3 linked regions of the Homo sapiens genome follow. The protein of the gene in region 3 interacts with the protein of the main gene of each other region in a pairwise test. Each region holds a gene or a part of one and is shown on either strand. Other genes may lie near its edges.

Region 1 (7,341 bases), on a different chromosome or scaffold from region 3:
GGACACTATCGAGGATCTTGATGAATCTGGCATGGGTAGATAGACTGCAGCTAAAGAGTTTAGCATACCTGTAACACCCCCAACTCCCCAACATAAAGGGACAGGAAAAGGCAGGACCTGGGGGCTTCTCTGACCCTTGAACAGCTTATACTATGAGACCTTGGGAACCTCCTCCATGCAGACACACAAGGCTCAATGTTGGGGGAAGGGAAGGGCCCATAGGTCCAGGACCACAGCCACCTCTGCAGGAGGACAGCTCTGCGGTACAGTACTTCAGGGTCGGTGCCTTCTAGGCGTGGATATCGCACCAGACTAGTTGGCTGGAACAGGTCTGCATTCAACCCTAGTTCCCGCTGTCTAGATGACTTGATCTTGACCCCTCGGAGACGAACATCAATCCCATCATCTGGGGGAAGGGGTCAGAGTAAGGTCATTTACAGCACCTGCTGCCTCCTTGGCCCTCAGACCTGGGACCGGCTCCTTGAACGCTCAGCCTTGTGTCACCGTTAGCCCCTAGAAACTCGGGACCTTCGGGATCACCTTCTATCACCTGATTCTGATTGATCTATTCCTGCTGATTCCTCTGTCTTCCACTAGAATGCTGGGATGCCTGAGGGTCCCAACTCAGTTCCTCTTCCAGGTGAGCCCAACCACCTGTATGGCTTTAAGGCAGGCCTATACCTGGCATGTCCCAGCTGGCTCAGGCCCCAAAGCTCCAAATCCTGGAGTTAGTTCAGCATCGCCTTCACCCCAACTCCAAGCCCATCCTCTTCTCTCCACACACACTCTCTGTTTGCCCCCATCTCCACGCCGGGCTCTCTTTCCCTCCTTATAGCCTTAAACCTCACCTCGGCACTCCACGATGCGGATCTCGATGATCGGGAGGTGGACGGTCATGTCCTCCAGGACACAGACATCCCCGATGAGGGTCCTGAGGAGATGAGTGTGAAGCACTTCAGATACCTCCTGCCTCAGGCCTTCAGAGACTGCTGGAGTCTCACTCAAACTTAGGCTTTCAAGCTGGGCTAGGCTTGGAACATGCCCTACTTCCCTCCCCAGGCCAGCGTGCTCACTCGTCAATGCTCACGTCACTCAGCTTCTTCAGGTTGTCCCCTTCACCCCCATAGACCACCACCCGCTTTGGCATAAAGTTGTCATCTGTGGTATCCACTGTGAGTAGCAGCTTCCTGAAGGGTCAGAGTGTGAATATGAGTCTTTGTGAACCCACAGGGACATAGCCCACCCACCCTGTCCTGCCCAGAGCCTACTTACTTGACAATGGTGCCCTTCTTCATAGTAAGCCGTACCCAGTGTTGGCACTGGGACCCATCGCTCTCCCAGTAGGTATCGGCATTGCTGTCTGTCAGGCAGGACACGTTGAACTCCTCCTGGGGAGGGGCAGAGACGTGAAGTCAGCAGTTACCCTCCCTCCCTGCACTGGGCTTGTGCTCTGGGCCAGGAGCACCAGAGAGAAAGCATAGTGAAGTTGGGCTAACAGGCAACTGGTATGGGATAGGGGGCCGCTGGGTATGTAAGGGGTCCTATAGACGTCCAAGATGGGGAGCTGAACTGAGTGTGGCCTGTGGGGACCCTGTTTTAGTCCTGGCCTGCAGGTGGGGGTTCTTTCTGGATCTAGCCTTGAGGGGTGTGACTATATCTTGCCTGGGGTGGGAGGAGCCCCAGCACCCACCGTGTAGGAGGAAACGTCTATGCTCTCCACATACTGCTTCACGCTACCCAGGTTCTCATCCTCCTTGCCCAGGTGGTCATACAAGAAGTGGATCAGGTCCTCGTCGCACTCGTAGGTCCATGTCGGGGGTACATAGCTAAGCAACCCCAAGCCCCTAATTAGACTGGGCCCAGACGCAGAGCTCCTTCCTCCCCACCCCATTCCAGCTCACTCACAGTAGCCTTTGTACAGCTTCTGCGTATGCCTCTGCCGGCTGAGGTCTCGATCCCAGGCGATGTGAGTATGTCAGGTCCACCACCTGTTCCCACCTGTGGGCACAGAGTAGGGAGTGGGATGGGGAGACATCAGCGGTCAGCAAGACACTACCTCCATGCCGTGTAGCCTTCTTCAGGGCTCTATCTCCCAGTCTCCCTCCGAGCCCCCTTCACGTCCCGCCCCTTTCTGCTCTTAACCCTGCCTCCGCTCCAGTATCCCACCCACCCCAGGCTGTGGCTGAAGTGTTCCCAAGCCCTCCTGGCCCGGCCTTCTGACAGCCAGCCCCGCTCCTTCAAGTGCAGTACCTGAGCACCGGCCGATAATCCACGCCAAAGAGCTGCTGCTGCCGCTGGAGGTGGTTGGGAGTGTCGATGGGTACCAGGCGGGCTCCGCCCTCCGCCGGGCGGCACACCAGCAGCCAGCCTTCCTGCAGCCCGCAGTCGCCCAGGTGCTCTGCCAGCTGCTCCTGCCGGGACGCGTAGGATGGGGACAGCCGTCAGGGAACTGCCCAGCCGCCTGTCGTGCCCAGCCCAGGGCAAAGGGCGCCGAACGCAATGCCAACTCAATACAGGGGAGAAAAGGCAAACAGCCAGAGGTTTCTCTGGCCCCAGGGGTCTTTTACCGGGTCCTGGGCAGGGAAGAGCGCACCTTTGTCAGCTTCACCCAGAGCCCGTGGCCATTGCACAGCTCCTCGCCCGTGGTGCGCACGCAGGCGCCGCGCCGGAGCTCAATGCTGTCGCGGGCGGCGCGGAGGGGCCCGGAGCCGGTACCGGGGGCTGGGCCTGCGGCGCCCACACGCAGCCCCAGGCCCTCTGCCTCCCACACCGGCAGAAGCACGCGCGACGGTCCCGCTGGGTCCTTGTAAAGCTTGTAGAGCACCTCTCGCGGCACGAAAGCCAGCGCTGCTGGCAGCGGCCGCCCGGCGCGGAGGCTCCGCGCTGCCTCTGCCAAGAAGCGCACGCGGCCCAGCAGCTGCCGGGGGGACTCCAGCACCGCGCCCGGGCCAGGACCCGCCATGGCGAAGTGGCGGAGGTGAGCACCTAGAGGCGACCCTGCCCGGGGAACAGCTGGCGCGACCGCGGACAGAGCTTCCCACCACGCCCTTCCCCGCCTTTGGCCAGCCTTTGCCGTATGTTCTGGACTAAGCGCACCCCAGCTCTCACTGTATTGGACTGTGTACTCCCACACTCAACCATATTACTTATCTCTGTGCCACCCTAACCCAGCCGACCAAACCCAAGATTGGTGATTGCTACCTGATCAATCTCCCTCTCTCCATTTCCTTGTGACTACCATTTTATCTCTACTGCTACTACCCTCATTCAAGTCACCATTCTAGCTAGCCTGGGTCATTGCCAACAGTCATTTTTCTGGTTCTTCGGCCTGCTGTTTTTCCTCCCACTCCCAGCGAATCTGCTGGACTCCCTATCCTATGGGTGGTGTGATTAAAGTGTTTGAGACAATGGCCCCTTCCCCTGCCACTGACAGGAGTCTTGAGTCATTAGGGTTGATTCTGTTTGTCACTCCTAATCCCAAGGACACTGGAGATCATTATTCATTTTAATGTGATTGCTGATTTCTGTTTCCCCAGTCTTGTAGCTCCTTAAAGGCTGGGGCTGTCTTGAGCAGAGCTAACCTCTGCACCTACTATAGGTCCAGGCTATAGTATGGACCTGGCTGGATAAGACTGTTGGTATCATGAGTGGGACTTGCGCCAAGCCTCCGGATACCCAGACTGTCAGATGAGAACAAATTCCTCATGTCACCGTAAGATACATTTACAGCGGAGTTTTCTTTTGGGCCTTTGTTGTTGCGTCGCTACAGCAAACTTTACGGTGAAAAAAGGTAGGGGTCCTACGGGCAGCAGCCAGGGCAGCCCTGGAGCTGTCGCTGGAGTCCGATCATGTGATCTTCAACATGGCGACGCTCTTGGTTCCCTACAGAAAGGGGCGGAGCCTGGACTGGGGGGCAGGCTCAGATTCAGGTTAAATTGTGGATTGAGCTCGCAGTTACAGACAGCTGACCATGGAAGCGAATGGGTTGGGGTGAGTTCTCCAGAGCACGCGGTGTGGCTAGCCGGGCTTCTAATTTGAGTCTTCCAACTCAGGACTCTATCCCTCTACTCCCCTTTCCCCACCCTGGAGACCTCCCAACCTGAACTCCGTTAGCTGGGATCCTGAATCCTAAAACCATGGATTTTTGAGATGTTCATCCCAGGGCCTTAATTCAAGGGATGCCTCAGGATTTCCAACCAGGATCTCTATTCTGGGACCATCAACTCTGATCCCTCTTTATCCCCCAGCCTGGGTATTTCTCAGCCCCTGAACCAGCCCAGTGACATTCCCGTTTCTGAGGCTCACTAGTTCGAAGACCCCCAAACTATCCTTAGTGGGCCTTCATTCCCTCCCCCCAGTCCCTCTGGTTGCTTCGAGCTTGGAAGAGTAGAGACTAAGTGGAGGGAAGAGGCCCCAGGGCGGGCCCTTCTGGAGTTTGTGCACCACCTGATAGGCAGAGAGGAGGCGGAACGGGCGGAAAGCCAGGGTTTGGGAGCTGGCCTGGAGGAGGTAGATAGCGGTCCTGGACTGAATCGGCCTTATGAACCCGCGCTTTCCCCAGCCTCCAGCGTAGCATACTGACACCTACCCCCACCCCCACCTGATCGCCAGACCTCAGGGTTTTCCGGAGCTGAAGAATGACACATTCCTGCGAGCAGCCTGGGGAGAGGAAACAGACTACACTCCCGTTTGGTGCATGCGCCAGGCAGGCCGTTACTTACCAGGTAAGAGTCAGGGTCTGGAAATCTAGATAAAACTCCGGAGGGAGAAAAGTTTTCGAGGGGCAGGGGAGGGCTCTGGAGGGCCTCAAGGCTGAGCCCTGTCTTCCCTCTGTATGCAGAGTTTAGGGAAACCCGGGCTGCCCAGGACTTTTTCAGCACGTGTCGCTCTCCTGAGGCCTGCTGTGAACTGACTCTGCAGGTGAGGGGTCCACAAAAGAGGGAAAGATTTATGCCTTCAGTCTGCCACCTAGCAACCTGTCTCCTGTTTCCTACAGCCACTGCGTCGCTTCCCTCTGGATGCTGCCATCATTTTCTCCGACATCCTTGTTGTACCCCAGGTACCCACTCAAACCTGATCCTAGAATATAATCCAAGGACGCCTTGAAAATCCTTCTATCAGTCCAGTCAAGGTTTACAATAAGCACTTATCCTAACTGGATCGAGGGAAAAACTAAGGTTGAAAGAAATGGAGTTTGGCAGAGTTTTATTCTCCTTTTCCTTCCTCCTGGAATGAGCTGAACAGAACCTTTCCTCCTGGATTCCATTTTGGGAACCCAGATGTTTTCTCCCCCTCCAGGCACTGGGCATGGAGGTGACCATGGTACCTGGCAAAGGACCCAGCTTCCCAGAGCCATTAAGAGAAGAGCAGGACCTAGAACGCCTACGGGATCCAGAAGTGGTAGCCTCTGAGCTAGGCTATGTGTTCCAAGCCATCACCCTTACCCGACAACGACTGGCTGGACGTGTGCCGCTGATTGGCTTTGCTGGTGCCCCAGTAATGTGGGACAGGGCAGGGACTCGGGGCGCGGGGAGATCACTCTGGAAGGTCTGGGGTAGACAAAAGGAAGGGTCAGTCTGGCTTCTGTGACACCATCTTTCTATCCTTCTCTAGTGGACCCTGATGACATACATGGTTGAGGGTGGTGGCTCAAGCACCATGGCTCAGGCCAAGCGCTGGCTCTATCAGAGACCTCAGGCTAGTCACCAGCTGCTTCGCATCCTCACTGATGCTCTGGTCCCATATCTGGTAGGACAAGTGGTGGCTGGTGCCCAGGTGAGTCCTGAGAGAGAGAGAAATAGGCTGGGATTTGGTCTGTAAGGACCAGAAGCAAGAGTGTCCTAAACCTGAGAGGGCAGGGGTCTTAATGCCAGGGATGAAAGAACCTTGGCCTCCAGTGATCTAGCGGAGCAGCCAAGCCCATCCTGACACTGACAGTGGGGCTTAATGCTCTAAGTATTCAGACACCAAAGTTAGTGCTGGGATCTGAGGAAAGTAAATTTTTTTTTTTTTAATTACTGGGTTTTTAGGGTCAGGCAGTATCAGGGATTGAAGTCATTTGGGGAAAATTGAGGTGGATTTTGTATGTGGGGGAAACTTCCTCTTTGTGTGTTACATATTTTTCTTCACCATACCCTAACTAGGCATTGCAGCTGTTTGAGTCCCATGCAGGGCATCTTGGCCCACAGCTCTTCAACAAGTTTGCACTGCCTTACATCCGTGATGTGGCCAAGCAAGTGAAGGCCAGGTTGCGGGAGGCAGGCCTGGCACCAGTGCCCATGGTGAGGATTGGGATGGGTTGAGTGAAGGTGGTCCTGTGGAGCTTTCAGGCTAAGTCCTGCATGGACTGGAGTGACCACTGGAGGGCAGCAGAAGTACAGTCAAGAAAGATTAGTGGTTGTAGCAAGGCCCTCTGTAGCCTGAGATCTGCTTTTTTCTAGATCATCTTTGCTAAGGATGGGCATTTTGCCCTGGAGGAGCTGGCCCAAGCTGGCTATGAGGTGGTTGGGCTTGACTGGACAGTGGCCCCAAAGAAAGCCCGGTAAGCCATGGAAGGGTGAGGCCTTGAGGTTGAGGTGGGGGTGTTGGCTGGGGGAGCTGCCATGTATGCAGTTACCAGAACGTGGCGCTGGCTTTGCTTCCAGGGAGTGTGTGGGGAAGACGGTGACATTGCAGGGCAACCTGGACCCCTGTGCCTTGTATGCATCTGAGGTAACAGCCAGGGCCCCTCTGTGTGTCTGTTACTGTGCACTCCTGTGGCTGTGGCTGTATTATTCTGTGTGCACTTGTTTTTAATGTCTGTCTGTCCTTTTCTTCTACTCTGTACAACATAAGCCCTAGAAAGACCGGACTTTTTGTTGCTGTTGTTCATTTGTGTTTATGCTTCATGCCTGGGTCCATACTAGGGATCTGATAAATTTTATTGAATGACTGAATAACACTGAGTAGAAGCATGCCTACATATGCGTTTGTCACTAGTATATATAGGGAGGACAAAGGCTTGCTGGTCCTCCTGTAGCCAGTGCCCTGTTGGTCCCCCAGGAGGAGATCGGGCAGTTGGTGAAGCAGATGCTGGATGACTTTGGACCACATCGCTACATTGCCAACCTGGGCCATGGGCTTTATCCTGACATGGACCCAGAACATGTGGGCGCCTTTGTGGATGCTGTGCATAAACACTCACGTCTGCTTCGACAGAACTGAGTGTATACCTTTACCCTCAAGTACCACTAACACAGATGATTGATCGTTTCCAGGACAATAAAAGTTTCGGAGTTGAACTATTGTGTAGTTTTGTTTGTGAAAGATTGTGCCCATATCCTCAGTTCTTCTTAGCCTCTG
Region 2 (7,029 bases), on a different chromosome or scaffold from region 3:
ACATTTATTCCCTACCCGCCCCTCAACACTAGTTGAGAATCACTCAATGGAGTAAATGGGAGAGAAAAATGTATGAACTAGAACCTGAAATAACTTCCTTCTAGGATCAACTTGATTTTTCAAAAGTAAAAACTCAAAATTTTATCTAATGAAGATATTCCCATTTAGTTATAAGTCTGAAACACAGTCCTAAAGCCTAACAGAGACCAGGAGAGTTTGCTGAGGCAAGGACACAAGGGGCAGCTACTCCAGAATCTGTTACCTGTGAACACCAGTCACGCTCTCTTCCACAATGCCTCGGATCTTCTTAAACACGTTTGGATACTTCTTATAAACCCAGTGGGTTAAGTCTCCCCCATCATCCAGGATCTATAGAACAGCCAGAAGACTTCTATGGGCATTCAGGCTGCTAGGGCTGGGGGGAACTTTGAACCCACTTTCTGTACTAGTAAGAGAGCCCTGTATGTTTTGGAAGAGTACTCCTCAGAGCTCCCTAGAGCAGGCTTAGAGAGTGGAAATACAGTCAAATTTGTTGGTGTAAAATGGTTAAAAGGATTCCTAGGTTTGCTTTAGGCTACAGTGATGAGTATTAAGCTAATCACAGACTCATTTTTAGTCTAGAGTCTTGAAATATATAGCCCCTTTGAATGCAAAAGGAGAACTGGGGCAGGAAGGAAAGAAAGCAGAATCCTACTCCAAAGAAGCACCACTATTTTGTTCTGGTGTGTTTGAGCCATGTGTTCAGCTAGTCTTACCCTTCCCCCACCTTTCCATTCAGTACTCAGACCCATTCTGAATAGGTATCAAGCTAAACACTTTAGCAACAAAGTCAGTGCATAAGACCAAACATCCAAAACATATTTAGGGAACCATGCTTTGAGGGAAAAAAAGGAAATAAATCTATTGTCAAAGTGTAGGATGTATATGCATTATTACCATGTTGGCCTGCCACCCATCCATGTTCACACAGCGGTCAATACACCACCAGAAGTCATCTTCTGACTCGCCCTTCCAAGCGAACACTGCAACTCCTGTAGAGACAGAAATGAATCAGCTGATTCCTCCTTTGAGGAGTGTCCTGTACCAAATCACTTTCTGAGATCCATGTGAAGAGAAAAAGGCAAAAGAAACAATTTCAGAAGGGAAAAAATTCAGAGCCAAAAGTCAAAGAATCACTTTTGGTTCAGAAATTAATTAGGTTAAGAAATTAAGGAATTTTTGCTTTAAAAGTAGTTTGGAACCTTAAAGTGTTCCTTTCTCTGGACTAATTTTATACTTAGAAGGAGATAAAATGAAGTGGGAATTAATAAAAGTTGTTAACTGGAGCATTATTGATATTAGTAAACATCTTGAAACAACCTAAATGTTCTCCATTAGGAAAATAGTGAGGTGAAATCACATAGCCATATGAATGACTATTACAAATGATGCTGTCAAAGTTTTCAGTGACATGGAAAACTACGTCTGAAAATATTGTATTTAGGTTATAAAACTGTATACATATTAGAATTTATGTAAAGTAGAAGAAAGGAAAAGGAAAAACATTAATCAAATACTCTATGTAGTGGGATTGTAGGGTTTTGGGGAACTTCCTAAATTTTTTGCAGTGAACACTTATCAGAAAAGAATAAACAAAAAAACCCAAAAGTATTATAAAGTTGCTTTCTGAGGATCTTAAAAAGATGAGAGGTCCGGCTGGGTGTGGTGTCTCACGCCTGTAATCCCAGCACTTTGGGAGGCCAAGGCAGGCAGATCACTTGAGGTCAGGAGTTCGAGACCAGCCTGGCCAACATGGTGAAACCCCATCTCTACTAAAAATACAAAAATTAGCTGGGTGTGGTGGCATGCCACTGCAATCCCAGCTACTCAGGAGGCTGAGGCATGAGAATCACTTGAACCCAGGAGGCAGGGGTTGCAGTGAGCCGAGACTGCGCCATTGCACTCCAGCCTGGGCAACAGAGTAAGACTCCATCTTAAGAAAAAAAAAAAAAGAAAGAAAGATGAGAGGTCCTCAAAGAAACTTCACGGTGATTTTCTTCTGAATATTTGAATAATAAAAATTATTATTATTGTTATTAATTTTTGAGATGGAGTTTCACTCTGTCGCCCAGGCTGCAGTGCAGTGGCATGATCTCGGCTCACTGCAGCCTCTGCCTCCCAGGTTCAAGTGGTTCTCCTACCTCAGCCTCCTGAGTAGCTGAGATTACAGGCGCACACCACCACTCCCGGCTAACTTTTGTATTTTTAGTAGAGGTGGGGTTTCACCATGTTGGCCAGACCGTTCTTGAACTCTTGGCCTCAAGTGATCTGCCCGCCTCGGCCTCCCAAAGTGCTGGGATTATAGGCGTGGGCCACCAGGCCTGGCCTGAATAATAAAAAATTATTTTACGTTTAATTAAACTCACAAATAGCTCATATATTTTCAATGCCATACTGAATACCAAATTATTTAATGCACTATCAATATGAAAGGTACTTCTTACTTGTGCTCTCTCACAAAATTGATGGCACTTATATAGTTTAACATTCTTCCTCGTTCAACTAACACTAGAACTGGGCATGACCCCATGCCATTAGATTATTTTCAAAGGCCATTTTTAATGACTACATAATATTCCACCATGGATATCCATCTTAATTTTATTATCCACTTTCTTCCTGTTGAGGTTTTTATCATGCACAATTTTATAGCCTCTAGACATATATGATATTGTAATGACAATTTTGATACAAAAAAGTTATATGTTTGGATAACTATTTTGGGGCAAAGTTGGTGGGAAAAAACCGAACTTACCAGCCTCAGCCAGTGCTGCAGCTACTTCATTCTGAGTTGAGTAGATGTTACAAGCAGACCAGCGGCACTGAGCCCCCAGGGCACAGAGTGTCTCAATCAACACCTGTGTAGAAGTGTAGGAAGACAGGGTGAGGAAGAGAAGGGCCACCCAGGAATGGAGAGCAAGCCTCATCAAGATAGCAATACCTATCAACTCTGCACCAACAGGTGCTACACTGGAAAGTTACAAAAGGGTGTACTCCAGCGAGGTGGTGCACTGGTATTTAACTTTGCATAAAACATAGGTTTCTAAAAGTCTTTATAACATTTTATAACAATCATATGTTTGCAAATCTAGACTTTCCTAGGTCAAGTTTGCTGAAAGTGGGTTTACATATTAAAAAAAAACCCAGAAAACCCCATTATTGTGTAACAGGGAGATCCTATTAATAGTTAGCATTTGGAGGTTGGCGAGTTAGGAAAGGAAAAGTGAAAAAAAAAAAATTGATTTCTTTCTTCCCCTTATCAGAAGTCCCTCTTTTCTTCCAACAAACTCACCGCTGTCTGGGCTGTGATGTGTGTACAGCCCACTATTTTAGCACCAGCCAAGGGCTTCTCCCCCTGAGCACGTTTCCTGAGTGAAATCAGAGCAGACATGTCTGTGAAAGAACAGAGGATTTGAGCTAGGTCTGCACTAGCAGTATCATCAGTTCCTGCCCCAGGGCTGGTCTGGATCTGTTGAGATATGGTGAGATGAGGCAGAAAAACTTTAAGCCTATTTCCATGACGACTGGCAGCTTCAACGGCACAGTAATAGTGGAGAGCAGTCATGCAACCACTTGGAGTTTCTCTCTTCCTCTACTGCTTCAGCTTTATACACAGAGGACTGAACAGAGAATGAAGTAAATCCTTAAAACTGATCAAAATGAAGGGTGAGTCTCATCATTCATTTGGGAAGAGAGGAAAATAGTTAAGGCATTGGCTAATAGATTCCTATATATAATCATCAGACCAGAAAGACTGTACCCTCAGCCGAAACCACTAACTTCTGTTTTTCTATGCTGTCTTACCATGTCCTGTCAGTCTGTTTGGTTTCTCTATTCTCTCTCAGTATAGAACATGCCTTCAATGTGTAAACAACACAAGAGTAAAGAGGACCTTACTGGGAGTGGCTGGGGTAGAGAAACCAAGATTTAACTGTCAGTCACTTTTACTCTGCTCCAGCAGAGGGTGCTCAGGACCAAACAAGACTCTAGGTCACCACATCCTTACCTTAAAACCCTTCCTCATCAGCTGCTTCTGGGCAATCTGGGTCTCTGCCATTGGCAGCTATAGTAAGATCCCATATAACCAACTACCACGTAGTGATCTAGGACTTGTCAATTCTGCCATGTAGATCTTTGAATACAGTGGTGGGGTGGGGCAAGGAGGAAAACAGAAACTACTCTGTGTGTAATCACCACATGCTGAGAACAGAAGGAAGAGAGAACAAAATCCCAAGACTTAAGTTCCATAGAGAGAGAAGTGTTTATCCGAAAGTCCATAATACTGTCTTTCTTCCCAGTACACTTTCAAGTCAGCTTTCAAGTCTTAAGTTGTTTGTGGATTCTGATGGCCAACAAGAGGGTTGTTTCTGGTCCCCTAACCCACTCCCTTTCTTTACCTTGCTCTGCAATCTCAATCTCCCGGCGTCCAAATTCTGCCTGCTTGATGTTCTTCACACAGAAATTGCTGCTGCCCTTGGAGTTGGTTTGCTGCTTCTCTCGGGGAGAAACCTCATCATCAGAGCTATCTGTGTAGGATGCAGCTAGAGCCAGGAAAGAAAAAAACAAGGATAGAAAAACCTCAGTGGTCCCCAACTCTACAGAGTGCAGTCCCCAAGGGACTTTCATTTAAGTTAAGGGAACACCCTTAATTGGAGCTACCTTTTACAACGCTCTCAGTTCTGCTCCTCTAGGTTCTAATAGGTGGTATGAATGAAACTGTTGTGGGTACTTCCATGTTGCAGCTCTTTCACCCACCCTAACAATACTGTGCTATTAGTGCCTATGACAAGGGACCACTGATTATAAACCTGCAGCTATAGTAATCCCAGATAATAGAGGTACTTGGTCCCATCTGGATTGGAACCAGACCTGGCAAAAACAGAAGAATAATTTAGGGCAGATAAGGAATGCTATTTCTATAGATCACTGGTTCTCAAATTCAAGCATCTATCAGGATCACATGGAAGGTTTGTTAAAACATATATTGCTAGACCCTGTGGCCAGTTTCCCATCTGGCAGGTATGGAGTGGCACCTAAGCATTAGTAGTTCCAACAAGTTACCAGGTGTTGCTGATGCTGCTAGTCAGAGGATCACACTTTGAGAACCATGGATATAGACAAAAGTGATAAGATAGTCTTACAAGGGATTTTACACTAAGTTGTGCTCAAGGAATAGAGAAAGAAAGAAATGGCACAAAAGGCAAACAGCTCTGGTTCTACTGATAGCCCTGGGAAAGTCTGTCAAAATGATCAACTTTAAAAAGTGGTTTCACATAAAAGCTAAAAATACCACTTATCTGACAGATATGCAAGAGGATATACAACAATCATTCCTTACCTCTCAAATCACTTCTTTCCTCTCTGAATTGAGTACTTTCCTCATCACGGTTTCTGCTAGTATACCTGGACTCTCTCACTGACTGACTTCTATGTACAGGTCCTCCTCCTGTCCAGCTAACACAAATACTACTAAAGATTATCTTCCCCACTATGACATTTTAACCATATCACTAAGCTTTTTAAAAGGCTCTAATACATTTCTGTAACATGGCCGTCAAGATCTTTGAAGACTTTTTAAAAGCCTTCTTCAGTCGTTTTATCGTTCTTCCTCTCATAACTCAATTTTTCACAATTAATTTTTCTTCTTTCTTGGCTACAGTTAGCCTGCTTGTCACACACCACTTTTTATCTGTCACTCCAGGATCATATATAACAGCTTTTCATTTATGTTAATCCTTAATGTTGATAATACAATGCAAAAGGTATTCTGGCAAAGGACAATGAATGGCTTTTGGTACAAATATCTCTGCTGACATTAATAGCAATCTGTAACCTCTTAATCTTTTAACAATGAGTCTTCAGTTAAACAATGACAAGGTTGTATTGGATGCCCCATTAGATGTCCCTAATGTTTTCTCCTGTATTCATCTGCCAAGATTCTATATTCTTTTCCATGCTAATTTTCTAATACATGCTCTATAGTTGGGAAAGACACAATACAAAACAGAAAAAGACTTTATTTACAGAGAGTTAAGACAGGAGGAGAGAACTAAAAAGAAACAGAGCTGGAGTTACATTACAGTAGTCTGAATCTTTCCTGCTCCAGAGTCTAACAGGGGAGGATATTCCAACAGAAAGAATAACCTAATAAATAAGAGAAGCCAAAATACTAATTTTATTGTTACAATCTAAGCAGTCTTGGAGACAAGAAAGAAAGAGATAGGTGACAGGGTATATTTTACACAAAGAAATCGTGCTTCAAAATGCACTTCTTTTTTAAGTCCAATTCTGTCAGCCAAAATAGCATTGATTTCTTCCTTTTGAAATGGGCGGATCAATGTGGGAATGGGAACTAGCCCAGTCCTACCAACTGGGCACTGGCCACAGACCACACACACAGACAGCCAGGGGGAAGAAAGTCTCGAGTCGACAAAAGCTTCCCCAGCTACTAGCTTGGCTGCAGAACATTCCCACTGCCCAGCCACTAACAGTTTTCAGCACAAAGGTGGGCAGTCATAACATGAGGTATTTTCAGATTGCTAAGTGAAGAGCACTGGTAGCAAACAGGGAAGAGAGATTAGAGAGGACATGGAGTTCATTCACACCTACCTGAACTGTAGCTGTCAGTGGAGGACTGTGAGATCGAGCGAGACAAAGATCTTCGGCCAGTTTTGGTGGGGAATTTGGTGAACTCCTGCATGTCATCAGCAAACTGGATTTGCTATACAAAAGGAAGACAAAAAGTTGAAAACTTATAAGGAAAATCCATGAAATGTTTTTTTTTTTAAGGATACATTGTCTTTCCCTAAAAGCCATGTAATCACATGGTTCCTACTAAGCCAGCAACTTTCCCACCAGAAATGGGGGAAGGCCGAGGCTACTCTCTGACTTCTCCCAACACGTCAATCACTGTCTCTTCCCAATTGTTTCTGCAGGATTTGGGAGGAGGGGCTAAGGTTAAGAACCAATTTCGTTTAGTATATGTTCAAT
Region 3 (7,029 bases):
CTTCTCCTGCACCACCACTTTGGCGTTCTCCTCCTCCAAGGCCCATATCTTTCGGAGCAGCTCCGTCTTCTCCCTCTGGCTAGCGCGAGCCTTGGCAGCCTCGTCCTCATATTGGCGGGTGAGATCGCTGACCTCCCTCTCGGTGGCCGCGTCCTTCTCCACCTTGAGCACCTCCTTGACGGTGATCTTGCCCTCGGCCATGGCCCGCTCCTTCTCTAGCCTCTTGAGCTTGTCCTGGAGGAAGCTCAGCTCCTCCTCCTGCTTCTCCCTGAGCTGGTCCTGGCGCTGGTGGTCCTCCTGCAGCTGCTGGTACTCTGCCTCCAGCTGGGGGTCATTCTGCAGTTTCACCACCTCTTTCTCTGTGACCTTCTCCTGCGCCCGGCTCTTCTCTTCAGCCAGGGCGGCCACACGCTGCTGCAGGAGGAGCACCTCTGCCTCCCGGGCGCCCTTCTGCCGCCTCAGTGCCTCCAGCTCCTCCCGCAGCTGCAAGACCTCATCCGCCTGGGCCCTGTCAGGCTCGATGCGCAGGACCTCCTTGACCACGTACTCCTGCCCCCCGTCTCTGGTCTCCTGCTCCAGGGCACGCAGCTGCAGCTGCAGTGCCTCCAGCTCCTCCTGCAGCAGCTGGTTCTTGTGCTGCTCCTCTGCCAGCGTCCGCTGCAGCTGCTGGAAGCTCTCCTCCAGCACGGGATCCGGCACCTTCTTGAGCACCTCCTTCCTCACCACCGATTCCTGAGGCCCCTGATTCCTCAAGGTCCAGATTTCTTCCTGGGTGCTCTTGACCTCGTTCTCCAGCTGCCGCCTCCGCTCAGTCTCCTCATCCAGTTCCTTCCTGATCTTCCACGCCTCCTCCACTCCAGAGTCCGGCCTATTCCTTTGCAGGGTCTCATGGGTCACTTCTACTTCCGGCTGCTGTGATGGAGAAGACAAGACAAGGTTAAAGCCAGGCTCTGGCAGCACATGTAGGGCCTGTCCCCACCTGGTCAGAGTGGCTGTCCTGTGGTCCCCAAGGGACTCCCTCAGTGCCAGTTCATGTTAGTTGTAGAGTTCTAGGGTTACTTTCAAAAAGGATCAAACAACTAGTTTGGGGTTTTTTTTAATCAGGTAAAACATTTTTGAGCTGTGGAAGAGTTTAAAATGAAACCACGGTCTCCCACCTCTGGTCCCCGTCCTAGGGCGTGTCTGTCAGCCTTGCAGATGCTATCTGTGCTCACACAAGAATATCTGTCTGTAGTATGTACCATGTGTTTATCTCTCCTGCACAAATGGTATTCCTGCTGCTCACTGCACTTACAGAGCTCATTCCAGCTCAGCACAGAGAGTGCTGCTTCAGGATTTACCAGCAGCATTGTTTCCGCTCTCTGGACAGACCGCAGTTTAGCCCATTGCTGATGAAGAGTGAACTGCTTCCAGTGTCTTGCTATTAAAAAACAATGCTGTCATCAACATCATGGACTTCAGAAAATAACATTCACTTTCTTTTGTTTCTTTCTTTTTTTCTGAGACAGAGTCTCGCTCTGTTGCCCAGGCTGGAGTGCAGTGGCACAGTCTCAGCTCCCTGCAACCTCCACCTCCTGGGTTCAAGCAATTCTCCTGCCTCAGTCTCCTGAGTAGCTGGGATTACAAGCATGCGCCACGACGCCCAGCTAATTTTTGTATTTTTAGTAGAGACGGAGTTTTACCATGTTGGCCAGGCTGGTCTCGAACTCCTGACCTCAGGTGATCCGCCTGCCTCGGCCTCCCAAAGTGCTGGGATTACAAGCGTGAGCCACCATGCCCAGCTGAAAATAGCATTCACTTTCAGCAGATGTTTACTGAGTTGAATAAGTTCTCATGTCAGTAGAAGCATTGGCTCGGGCCAGTCTTTGCATTGGCCCTGCCCAGAAACGTTAGCAAGGGGACACTTCCATCAATTCACAAACCATTTCTCTAAGACAGAGTCTGTATTTGTCACCTGTTAGAACAGCCTGAAGTAGAATTTCTTACTAAGATCAGTTACCTGTCTGAGGAGATTCAGAGCAAACTCCAGATTCTGCAGCCTCTGTCTGTTGATGGCATAAACTTCAGTGAACTTGGCGGCAAGTGCTGCTTCCTGCAGAGAAGAGGATTAGGAGAGCGGTCAACAAACAGGTGTCAACAGGGTAAGCAACAGAGAGCTAGACAGCGTGGACGTGGTTCTTGAGAAGTGTGGAATTTGGGGGTAGAGGCATAGCTCTTGCCCACTCCTGCCTGGAGTTAGACTGTAGCCTCACCGGTGGAGAGAAAAATGGATCTCGAGGCAGAAGATCCAGGCCAGGGTCTTGGCCACACTGACTTTGAGCAAGTCTTTCTGCCTCTTAGAGCACCAGTGTTCTCTCTTGTGTGTACAGGAGACTAATATCAGCCCTCCACTGTACTTACTGAGGTGAGCAAAACAGGAACTTCCCAGATCCATGGTTCTGACCCTGACACTTCTGTTCAGCTGCATTTTCAAAAATTTTTATTTCTTAAAGACAGAATCTCTTTCACTCAGACTGAAGTGCCATGGTGTGATTGTAGCTCACTGCAGCCTTGAACTCCTGGGCCCAAGTGATCCTCCCTCCTCAACCTCCCAAGTAGCTGGGACTACAGGTTTGCACCACCACGCCTGGCTAATATTTTTGTAGATATGGGGTCCTGCTTTGTTGCCCAGGCTGGTCTCCAACCCCTGGGCTCAAGCAGTTCTCCCACCTCGGCCTCCCAAAGTGCTAGGATTACAGGTGTGAGCCACTGCGCCCGGCCTTGCTGTCTTTCTAGGCATATTGATGTCACTGCCCTAGAACAAGTTCCTCATCTCTTACCAAACCTGTTTGCATGCAGGAGGGCTCTCAGTGGCTTCCCTGTTGTGTGTGCATCTCTGAGGCCAGCGTGTGACACCATGCTCCCTGGGGAGCAGGGCAGCTTGGCCTCCACCTCAGTCCCGAGGCCGCCTGGCCCATGGAACTCACCTCTTCCTTCACTTTGGTGGCAGGAGATTGGAGCCTGGCTCTCTTGCTCACGTGGCTTCTCCTTCCATTCTCCAAGTCGAGAAGAGACCTTAGTTTTTCTGCTTCTAACTCATAGTCCTGCATGAGGGAGAGACATGGCAGAGGGGAGATTAAAACAGCTGAGAAGAGACAGACATGTTCCTGTACCCCTTCAGGCTGACCCAGACCTGCCCTGTGCCATGTGCTGGTTTTATAATCTGCGTGGGTCTTCCTCACAGCTGCACCCTGCAGTGATTTCCAGGAGGTTTTGAGAATTACTGATATCTCAGCAGTACATAGCTCCATCACTCAGTAACATATGAGACAAGAAGTGCCCCCTGAATTCCCCTCCCAGCCTTTCTACATGCCTAGAGATTTTCACATTCTGCTGCTGCTTTTAACATCGTACCATAACCCTGTCTCACCTTGCCACCACCTCTTCTCATGTTTACCAGCTTGCTGACTTTATAATCCATCAGGTGGATGTGTGCTGATTCACGCAGCTTTCCCCTTCCACTGGACACCAGTCCTTTCCAGCGTACTAGTTTTGCTATTGTAAATAGTGCTGTTGCAACAATGTTGTTTATCCTGCATTTTTTTTTTTGTACTTTTTCCTTAAGGATAAATTCCCCCAAAGTGTTTACTGCTTCAGAGTATAAAACCCTTTTACAGCATTCCATGTCTAGTACCATGCTGTTTTCCCAAAAGCCTGTGCCAGTTTGCACAGCAGCCGGCAGTGCCTCGGATGGCCAGCTCCACCCCCATGTGCCAGGGCCGGTGCTTGCTGCTTCTCTGACCAGGGCACGGTGGAATAAGACCCCTGCTGTTTGTGCTTTGGGCGGAAGTTTCCCGGCTCACCTTTACAGCTTGCTGGTACTGCTGGGAATTGGCACAGATCTTCTGTACTTCCTGCTCCCTACTTGCTATCTCATCTAGCAGGTTCTGTAAGACAGAGTTTAAAAATCAAAACTAACCAGAAAAAAAATTTAAAAAAGCAACCATGGATGCAGTAGCTGGAAATCTCAGAATCTGAATTTATTCTTCTCTAGCACAAAGTATGATGAATGGCTCCCTTGTATACATTTTTATTCATTGCAAAAGGCAGTTTTTTTGTTGTTGTTGTTTTTTTTTTTTTTTTTTTTTTTTTTTTTTTTTGAGACAGTCTCACTGCATCGCCCAGGCTGGAGTACAGTGGCGCGATCTCAGCTCACTGCAGCCTTAGCCTCCTGGGTTCAAGCAATTCTCCTGCCTCAGCCTCCCAAGTAGCTGGGACTACAGGCTCCTGCCACCATACCCAGCTAATTTTTTTTTGTATTTTTAGTAGAGATTTGGTTTCATTATGTTGGCCAGGCTGGTCTTGAACTCCTGAACTTGTGATCCTCCTGCCTCAGCCTCCCAAAATGCCGGGATTACAGGTGTGAGCCACCGCGCCCAGCCACAAAAGGCAGTTCTAAGGCTCTGTGAAGAAGGGCCAAGATCATTATCTCTGCTAGGAAACAAATGTTTACTGATGATTTGGACCACCAGACACTGTTCTGCTGTCTGACTTAGATTATCTCATTTAATCTTCAAACGATGCCAGGAGGTAAGCATCGTGACCTCCAGCTTATGAGTGAGGAAAGCTTCTGAGGTGGGGATGTGGCTGATGGGGTGGACCCGGGATTTGCATCTCAGCCATTGGCTTCCCGTGTTCCTCCCTCACCCCAAGGCACTGCGTTGGGCATGGGGGAGGCAGGAGTCCCAACTTTGAAAATGGGATTTCCCCCACAAAGGCGGCTCCTCATTCTGTAGCTGTTCACTCACATAGCCAACCCACGCCAAGTGTCCATTCTGCACCAGGCCCTGTGCGGGGCACTGAGCTGGGAGAGGTGAGCGACACACTCGGTTCTTGTTCTCAGAGGGTTGGGTGTTGGGAGCTTGAGCTGAGGCCCAGGGAGGACACAGCTGTGGCAGGCCTCTGCCCTGCTCCACCTCCCAAAGGCTTGGCTCCCCAGAAAGGGGCTTGTTGACCTCTGACCCTCCCTTGCCAGTGTGTGCCTGGGGCTGCGGAAACGGCCATCTCACCTTCTGGTTCTTCAGCTTGGTCTCCATCTGGCTGAGGCTGTCTGTCTCCTGGGGCTCGTAACTGGGGATGCTGACTAGGAACTGCAGCACGTGGTCATGGCCGCGGTGGAAGTGCTCGTAGGCTGCCTTGGCGCTCTGTAGGCTCTGCGCCCTGTCAAGGCAAAGCGTTCAGGCCTCAGCCACAGCAAACAGATGCCTCACCGAGCCCTCATTTTTTTTTTTAAAGTGGGAAACAACCAAATGTAACAACCAGAAATACCCCAAGTATCTCCCACACAGGGTGGGTGGTCATTAGGGAACGTCAGGTTGGACTGTGGAGAACCAGGTGGGTCCATATACATTGACTTGCAGAGATGCCCATTGTGGATTACAGGACCCAGGTAAGCATGACTCAAAAGAGAGACCACAGGGCCGTCAGAGAATCTGACGAACTCACCAAAAAGAAAAACAGCAAAATCTGTGGGACACGGCTAAAGCATTGCTTAGAGGGAATTAGATCGCATTCTCAGAAAACAAAAATGGCCACCACCCACCGCACCCTCACCTGCGTTCCACCTGCTGGCGCAGGTTGTTGAAACGCTGGCCCAGCTTGTGCACCTCGGCCTCCTGGCGCTCCAGGTCCGGACAGTGCTCCTGGAAGCGGCTGGCCAGTGTGCTCGAGCACTGCTTGGCCGCCTGCAAGTTCTGCTCCACCTCACCCAGGAGGGACTTCTGGGCCTGTAACTCACAGGCCATGGCCTGGCGGGGCAGAGGAGGAGACGGCGGTGCTACGGCCAGAGCTCCCAGAGCCAGGCGATGACACCCACTGAAGCCCCTGGGCCACTGACTGTAGGAGGGTGGGCAAGGCCACAGGTAGGAAGGACCGGAGCCTTGCTCTGTACATCCCAAACCTGGGTCACTTCTGCCATCTTCTGTTTTTTAACAATGAACAAAGCCCTGAAAAGCTAACTTCTAAAAACCCTGCAGCAGGCAGCTCGTGCCCTGCGCGAGAACAGCCTGCCACTGTCTGGTCATGAGGCTGTGGCAAAAGCAAGTCGTGAGATGGGAGTGTGAATAAGGGGCCTCAGGTCACAGACTTGAATGTTTCCTGTGCTCAGGCAGTGTGGGAAGGGGGCCCGTGGCAACTGCGAGGTAAGCAGGCCGAGAAGGCAGCTGCTCCTCTGCCCACTGACTTGCCCTCTGAGCTGCAGCCCAGGATGCCAGCTCTGCTCAGCAAGAGATACTGGGAACATGGATTGTTATGTGCTTTATGCTTTTTTTTTTTTTTTTTTTTTTTTAAGAGATAGGGTCTTGCAACGTTGTCCAGGCGGCTGGACTTAAACTCCAAGGCTCAAGCAATCCTGCCCCAGCCTCCTGAATGGCTGGTGTTACAGGCATGTGCCACTACACTGGCTATTGCAGATATTTGATCTTAAAATGCTGGCACCCGAAATCCCGTAAGTCACACAGATCCCGTGAATAGCTTGGATTTGTGCTGTGGGCCTCCATTTGCAGTTCCCAATTTGGGCATTCCAAACCTGGGGAGACTGGATGCTGGTGTCCTCATCTATCCAGACGGGCGGGTGGATGTGCCAGATGCTCTCACCTGCTCAGAGAAGGACTCCCAGGACTTGGGCCCTAGACTCACCGCCAGCTCCTGCCCCTTGCTGTCCAGGACACGGCTGCTCTCAGGCACTGTGTCATCCTGATTCAGATGGTTCTCGTGTGTGGCCAGCAACTCCCAGCTCTGCTGCAGGCTCTTCTCCAGGCGGTTGGCCACATCAACCCTGAGAGCACCAATCAGGCGTCGGGGGATGCCCACCTGGCCCCCTGACCCCACCCCAACCTCCATGCTGCCTGTCTGCCACCCACTTCTCCTGGGCCAAGTCCAGCAGCTGCAGGAGGTGCTCGTATTTCCGGTTGGTGTCCTCCACCCGGGTCCTCAGCAGGGGTGTGGTGCCACTGCCTGGGAGGGCCTGGATGAAGGCTTCGCCCTCAGCCG

The links.
Region 1: the proteins of PPL (region 3) and HECTD3 interact in binary tests that used the Homo sapiens proteins (3 or more experiments, as listed by UniProt).
Region 2: the proteins of PPL (region 3) and AHCYL1 interact in binary tests that used the Homo sapiens proteins (3 or more experiments, as listed by UniProt).

The regions. Positions count from the first base shown.
Region 1 is NC_000001.11:45,008,296-45,015,636, forward strand, and holds the start of HECTD3 (E3 ubiquitin-protein ligase HECTD3), read right to left. Parts: upstream 3,030-7,341; 5' UTR 2,963-3,029; coding exon 2,594-2,962; intron 2,412-2,593; coding exon 2,251-2,411; intron 1,999-2,250; coding exon 1,906-1,998; intron 1,827-1,905; coding exon 1,691-1,826; intron 1,389-1,690; coding exon 1,273-1,388; intron 1,188-1,272; coding exon 1,074-1,187; intron 932-1,073; coding exon 849-931; intron 407-848; coding exon 241-406; intron 27-240; coding exon 1-26. Other genes in the region: UROD (uroporphyrinogen decarboxylase), read left to right, coding at 3,971-3,990, 4,612-4,724, 4,841-4,920, 4,997-5,059, 5,299-5,496, 5,614-5,775, 6,144-6,281, 6,441-6,541 and 2 more. UniProt on the Homo sapiens protein: E3 ubiquitin ligases accepts ubiquitin from an E2 ubiquitin-conjugating enzyme in the form of a thioester and then directly transfers the ubiquitin to targeted substrates.
Region 2 is NC_000001.11:110,008,765-110,015,793, reverse strand, and holds part of AHCYL1 (S-adenosylhomocysteine hydrolase-like protein 1), read right to left. Parts: intron 6,761-7,029; coding exon 6,649-6,760; intron 4,581-6,648; coding exon 4,437-4,580; intron 3,433-4,436; coding exon 3,332-3,432; intron 2,898-3,331; coding exon 2,795-2,897; intron 1,032-2,794; coding exon 937-1,031; intron 370-936; coding exon 263-369; intron 1-262. UniProt on the Homo sapiens protein: Multifaceted cellular regulator which coordinates several essential cellular functions including regulation of epithelial HCO3(-) and fluid secretion, mRNA processing and DNA replication.
Region 3 is NC_000016.10:4,885,136-4,892,164, forward strand, and holds part of PPL (periplakin), read right to left. Parts: coding exon 6,900-7,029; intron 6,815-6,899; coding exon 6,676-6,814; intron 5,787-6,675; coding exon 5,593-5,786; intron 5,200-5,592; coding exon 5,049-5,199; intron 3,927-5,048; coding exon 3,843-3,926; intron 3,084-3,842; coding exon 2,967-3,083; intron 2,093-2,966; coding exon 2,000-2,092; intron 913-1,999; coding exon 1-912. UniProt on the Homo sapiens protein: Component of the cornified envelope of keratinocytes. May link the cornified envelope to desmosomes and intermediate filaments. May act as a localization signal in PKB/AKT-mediated signaling.